Homo sapiens: one gene and its partner. The protein of the gene in region 1 interacts with the protein of each later gene in a pairwise test. Each region holds a gene or a part of one and is shown in the gene's direction. Other genes may lie near its edges.

Evidence for each region.
Region 2: the proteins of ASZ1 (region 1) and LPAR3 interact in binary tests that used the Homo sapiens proteins (3 or more experiments, as listed by UniProt).

What each region holds. Positions count from the first base shown.
Region 1 is NC_000007.14:117,362,544-117,365,758, reverse strand, and holds the end of ASZ1 (ankyrin repeat, SAM and basic leucine zipper domain-containing protein 1), read left to right. Parts: intron 1-2,010; coding exon 2,011-2,163; 3' UTR 2,164-2,537; downstream 2,538-3,215. UniProt on the Homo sapiens protein: Plays a central role during spermatogenesis by repressing transposable elements and preventing their mobilization, which is essential for the germline integrity.
Region 2 is NC_000001.11:84,813,036-84,816,864, reverse strand, and holds part of LPAR3 (lysophosphatidic acid receptor 3), read left to right. Parts: intron 1-2,693; coding exon 2,694-3,019; 3' UTR 3,020-3,829. UniProt on the Homo sapiens protein: Receptor for lysophosphatidic acid (LPA), a mediator of diverse cellular activities. May play a role in the development of ovarian cancer. Seems to be coupled to the G(i)/G(o) and G(q) families of heteromeric G proteins.

The sequences.
Region 1 (3,215 bases):
GTGCTACACAAGCTACATCCTGAACTTGCTGATGACCCAAAAATTATATCTCATCTAGAAGAATCAAAGGAAAGGAACTGATCCTACTTAAACATGCCATTTTTCATGGGTATCCCAGGGAAGTTTAGAAGCATATGTATAAAGATACTTCTTGCAAAACATCAGCCTTTAATGTTTAGTGTAGGAAATTTCCTAAAAGCTATTTGCTTCAGGGTTATTTACTAATTTGGTTTCTCCAAGATGAACTAAAAACATGGGGGTGAGGGGTAAGGGTGTGTGTATAGAATTAAAATGAAATTAGAAAACCATATTTTTGTTAAATGAGTGAAATTAAGAAACTTTGCTATAGAAACTGACTCTAAAGTATACACAATTCAATCAGGTACCATATTTATTTTAATAATGCATACCTGTTAAGAGAATTTTCATTGTTCTTTGGCTAAATAGAAGACCTTTTTCCCGTGACCCTTCTCTATTTAGAATTTATGCATTTCTATATAAGAACTACCCTTGAAAACATGTATTAGTTTATAATAATGGCAAATACAGTTCTTTGGGCAAGAAAGTCTTAAATTTTGGAGCAAGCTAGTGGGTTGGTTTTTTCAGATTAGTCTTGTACAAGTAGTAATCATCATAATGAGATTTGATTTAGGGAATTATGAAGGCTTCCAGATTTGGAAATATGCTATCATGCCTGTTAAGCTTATATTATTTCAGAGTTTACCAATAATAATTGAAGGGATTTTTTTTTAAGAAACATAAGTTATCACAGATAAGTGTATGGAGGTAACAGAGAGAGGGTGGGAGAGGTCAAGGCTAGACTTTAACACCACATCACTCTCTTTCAAGCCAACACACTGACAGGCTCCTGTCAGAAAGGGTCATTCTAAGTAATTGATTAATAAAAGGAATGACTGTCTCAGGATTCAGTAAATGGAGCATCAGTGTCAAAAAGGAATCTGTTGCTGAATGAAGCCATTTGGAAGTCAGACCAAGAATATGGTATTAATGAGATTGGCATTGGAGTCTGGTTTTCTGCTATAAATTTAAAATTAATTTTGCAAGCTTTTTAATTAAATATTTACACTGTAGAATTTGGAAGTCATTATTCCTGCTGATGTTGAAAGTATTTATGTCATCACTCCAGCACAGGATGTTTCTAGTAAATATCACTCTATAAATGTGCCTGATTCTTTTTATCTTTCAAGGATCTTTGGTTTCTGCTTATTTTCTCTCCTGCCCCACCCCCAAAAGCCATCCCTCTCCTCTCAGCCCTCCCTCTTTAAGTCTTTTCTCTCTCTCTCACTTCCCCCTTCTCTCTCTCTCTCTCTCTCTCTCTGTCTCTCTGTCTCTCACAGAAACACACACACACAGATACACACAGAGTGGGCACACACACACAGTAGGTAGGGGAGAAGGGAGCTTCTTAAGCAAGAAATTTGCATCTGGGAAGTTAGAAACTGACTGGGTACTGTACTTTCATTGCTGAGAATTACTAAAAGAACCACTTAAGTTTTTGTTGACATTTGTTACTGCAATTCTATTTAAATAAATTAAGTTTCTACCAGTAGCATCTGATCTTCTCGTTTTTGCTAAATTTCATGTTTTAGGTTTGCTATAATAATGATTCACTTTTTTGTAAGACGTTAATTGATATTTAATGCACAAGCAAATCAATATCAATTGTCATTCCTTATAAGTAAAACAGAAACTTTAAATTTAAAGTTACTTTGTCTCGTGACATTAAAAACACCATTTTAAAATGTGATCATCTATGAAAGCATGTATTTTTAATGTAAAACTAATGATTTACAGTAATGGGATTCTAATGAAAGACTGTCTTTCAGACATATATGTTTACTTTAAATCTTCCATGGGAATCTTGAGTTGCCTACATCTAAATCAAGTGAAATGAATTAACATGGATATTATGATATTTTTTAAAATCAAAATGTTTTATTAATGTATTGTACAGTAACTCCTCTTTTCTTTTTCCATACTAAATATTAGTTGCAAAATGAACGGGAAAATGATCCAACTCATATACAATTAAGGGAAGAAGTATCTACATGGAATAGTAGAATTTTGAAGAGGACAGCTATTACCATATGCGGATTCGGTTTTCTTCTTTTCATTTGCAAGCTAACTTTCCAGAGGAAATAATCCAAATATTTGTTTTAAGTTATATATACACATCTTATTGAACCATCCAAAAATCATTGCTTTTAACTGTTTGCAGCACAATATAACTTTACATTCTTTGCCAATATTCCATAGGAAAAATTTTGACAATGTGGAGTTTTTTTTTAAAAAGTGGTTTGTTACTTTGACTTATAAATACAATTTGTTATGTTTATGTTAATTGTGATTAGGTAGTAAAGTATAAGTAATTTTTTGGTTTGATCGTATCTAAATCACATTCAAAATTAAAGTTATATCTAATATCTTTGACATTTTTTAAAGTGTGTTCATTTGTCAGTGAATCGTACAGGATTTGTAAAGTGTTCATAAATTGAGCTTTCTTTTGTTTCTTTTTTCCCCCTCCATTATTACATAATATGGATTTTTATTGGATTTTTTTGTTATATTACATTATGAGGAAATTATTAATTTTGAAAGTATCTGAGAGAATACAAAGGATAAAGGTAAAATGTTAAAGTTTTGAATTGTGGATTAAATCCTTAGGAAAAGTATTTTAAATACAAATTAAAACAGCAAAAAATTAGAGACTGGTGTTGAAAGTACAAAGTACATTGGAATTTTTTATGTAAAATACTTTGGGGAACATACATACTATATAACATTCTTAGGAATATTATAAAAGTGAATGGCATTTGACATATTATTTATCATATCTAAAGTAAGATTTATTTTTCAAAATCAAACTAATGATTTTCAGATTTTTAAAGTGAAGTTAATAAAATGGCAGGCCCAATTTAGCAGAGAATATAGTACTTAAATCTTGCCTGACTTAGTGCCATACTTAAACAGATGCAGTTGATCTACAGTTGTTTGAGAAGTAAACAAAGCACAGATAAAGAATTGTGGAAAGGAAGAACATTATAAGGATCTATAATTAGTAGCAGTTTCTGCTCTTGCTTATACCAAAACTACAAGATTTCAATCATTCTTTTCTTGAGAATTGGCCATATTTTAACCTAACTGCTAAATAGCAAGGCATATTTTTTTGCTGATATTTCCTCATTTAAATGAGT
Region 2 (3,829 bases), on another chromosome or scaffold:
TTTGGATGCAAGCCTTCTTTTCAAGTAAATGAAGATATTTATATATTTTTTTGCTTTTTACTTTTTTGGAGATGGAGTCTTGCTCTATTGCCCAGGCTGGAGTGCAGTGGCACAATCTCGGTTCACTGCAACTTCGCCTCCTGGGTTCAAACAATCCTCCTGCCTCAGTCTTCCAAGCAGCTGGGACTACAGGTGCCTGCCACCATGCCCAGCTAATTTTTTGCATTTTAGTAGAGACAGGGTTTCACCATGTTGGCCAGGCTGGTCTCGAACTCCTGACCTGGGTGATCCACCCACCTCAGCCTCCCAAAGTGCTGGAATTATAGATGTGAGCCACCACGCCCAGCCTAAATGAAGTTATTTAAGAGAAGAAACCATTGTTCAGCAGTTGAAGAGCCTCCCTTGACCAGGGCATTTCCTTTGCCTGGATTGTTCTGAGATGTACAAAGGGAAGGCCTTTTTCCTATGAATGAAAGATCAGGCTAAGCGGCTTCTGAACTCTTTTCCAAGTAGGAAACTGCCGAATTCTGTGAAACTGTGGCTTTTAACTCTCCATAAAACTCAAACAAATTTGACTTGTTTGTTTCTCAGACACAATTATCGGGTGGTATGGCTAAAAACTTACTAATATGAATTCTCAAGTTGGTAGTTGCAAACTTGGCTGCCCATCCAGTTCCTTCACTTGTTTCAAACCAGTCTGAATAAAACAAAAAACCAGTCTGAATCTGTCACATTGATTGCACACCCACTAACAAGTTCTGACCCACCACTAGAAAAACTCAGACCTAGCCTAAAGTCAGTCCTCAGTTTACAGCTGAGGAAGCTGAGCCCAGCGCAATGACATGGGTCTCCCAGAGTTGTACAGTAAGTGAAGAATTAGAACCCAAATCTCTGATCTCTTATCTCCAAGTCCAGTTCTTTATTCACATATATCAGCCAGACCGAAAATAATAATACAAGGTGGAGAAAAAAGGGAACCACTGCTGAACCGTAATTATGAAATAAGGAATTCAACCCCCCTGCTAGCTACTAAACATATAGATATTTTTTGTGGAAACAGAGCACCTCATGATAACTGCTGCTCAGTGAACCCACCACAGTGTTGGGTACCACTTTCCATGACCTCTGATCCTCACAACTACCACCTCACATAGTTGGGTTTATTAACTTTATTGTATAAAGGAGGGAATGGAGGCTGAGAAAAGTGAAGTAATTCCCATAATTCGGGTCACTCATAGGTTGAGCTGTGCATACATGTCTGACCCCAAAGTTCGTGGCTCTTCCCTGCCTTACACTGCCTCTTTATAATCCTTGTCTTTCCCTGCTTGGTATTATATCTCTTAGAAGTAAGATAAAGCAACAAGAGAAATACTATGCAGAACTAATTCTAACAAGTAGAGTAGTTGGTGATATCATCTATAGACTTGCTTGTTTGTCGTCTTCTCTGTTAGTATTTTAGCTCCCTGAGTGCGTGGCCTTCACCTCACTCACTGTCTAGTACAGCTCCTGGCACATTGTTAGCTTCAGATGAATATTTATGAGTGGACAAGCAAGTGCATTTAGAAATGACAAGGACATTCGCCGAAAGCAACCACATCATACTACAGAGGCGGGTCATATAGTGGCCCAGGGCACAGCCTGTGGAGAAAGACGGCCTCTGTTCAAAATCGTGTCTCTTAAGAGTTATTTGATCATAGGCAAGTTACTTAACTTCTCTTGTGCCTCGGTTTCCTGGGGATAATAATAATGCCAATGTCATAGTGTGGTCCTGTGAGTTAATCAAGGAAAGCGTTTGCACCAGTGCCTCGCTTATAGTAAGTGCTGTATAAAGATGAGTCGTTATTGCTATCTGAGGTTATGATAATAGTAGGGAAATAGTGGACCCATGTCTTAATGGGAGAAAAATATCATGAAATTTAGAGATAAGGTAAGTATGATGCTGTGGCTAGAGACTCAGAAGAGACTACGGTTCATATTCAATTGCAGAGTCTGAAAAGTAGATTTTTAACTATCTCATCATGAAAGATTTATTTCTGACCAAAAAATCTAAATGTAGAGCAGATGATTATGCAGATGGCCCGTGAATATGTCAAAAAGAATATAGTGCTTACTAAGCATCCACATGAATTTATGAAGAATGAAATTTATGAGCAGGTGATTTGGTTAAACTACTAGAAGAATGCCGTAGACTCATTGTGTCTTATTTTCAAGAGCACATTTAGAAAATCTGATTTCTGTAACAGCAGAATGTAGGGTGAAGTATGGGAGCCCTGGAGTCAGAGAGTTCTCCTCTCATCTCCCCCTAGAATTGGGCCTTGGTTTTCTTATCTGTCCAATGTGGATAATGAGTGCAACAAAGCCTCCCAGTGTGGTTCAGAGAACTAACGGAGATCATGCATGTGCACTGCCTCCTAAGCAGAATGTAAATGTGAGTCTCTCATAATCACAAGACCTGGGTAAGCAGAAAAGAAAGTGAAATGAAATGTGATTGATAGTCAAGGAGGTTCCCACCTATTTGCCTGTACCAAGCGTAGGTCTCAAATGCTCAGATGGTAGGTGGAAGTTTGCCTTGCAGTTGTCAAAACAAATCATGAGGGCCCCTTGATGCCACTGGCTAAAGGCTGGGAGAGAAGAAAACCTGAATAAGTCCCCTAAGGTCTGAGCATCTGTTGCCTCCTCTTCTCTCCTTGCAGGGGCGTTTGTGGTATGCTGGACCCCGGGCCTGGTGGTTCTGCTCCTCGACGGCCTGAACTGCAGGCAGTGTGGCGTGCAGCATGTGAAAAGGTGGTTCCTGCTGCTGGCGCTGCTCAACTCCGTCGTGAACCCCATCATCTACTCCTACAAGGACGAGGACATGTATGGCACCATGAAGAAGATGATCTGCTGCTTCTCTCAGGAGAACCCAGAGAGGCGTCCCTCTCGCATCCCCTCCACAGTCCTCAGCAGGAGTGACACAGGCAGCCAGTACATAGAGGATAGTATTAGCCAAGGTGCAGTCTGCAATAAAAGCACTTCCTAAACTCTGGATGCCTCTCGGCCCACCCAGGCCTCCTCTGGGAAAAGAGCTGTTAAGAATGATTACCTGTCTCTAACAAAGCCCATGTACAGTGTTATTTGAGGTCTCCATTAATCACTGCTAGATTTCTTTAAAAAATTTTTTTTCATAGTTTAAAAGCATGGGCAGTAAAGAGAGGACCTGCTGCATTTAGAGAAAGCACAGAAACGGGAGAGGTTCGGCGGGTCCCTGCTTGTCCTATGAACTGCTCAGAGCTCCTGTCAGTCCAGCTGGGCCTTCTGGGTTCTGGCACCATTTCGTAGCCATTCTCTTTGTATTTTAAAAGGACGTTATGAAAGGGCTTAGACCAAAATAAATCATAATGTTACTTGAGCCACCTTATATAGCTGCTTGGAGAGTCTATGTAGTTCTTTCTGCATGCATTAAAAATGTTTAGAAATGCTTCAGCAATGGTGTTTTTTTCCTCAAAGAAACCATGGCCAGTAGCTAGGTGTTCAGTAGGAATCAAAGAAAAATCAGTAAGAGCTCCAGATTAAACCTGATTTTTAACTGAAGGAACATTCTGAGGAAAAATACTTAAAAGTAAAAAAGGTCAATGTGAAAACCCTTTTTGACCTGAAAAAGGCCTTAGTATGGTCCTCCATGCATGTGTGTGTATATGCATGTGTGTGTGTGTGTGTGTGTGTGTCTATATATATATATATATATATATATATATATATTCCTGTTTTTACTGATTTTTATTGATTTTGTTCAAAGATATCTGGGGATTGGATTGGGGAATGCTTAATCTGACTATTGAAAGAAACATGG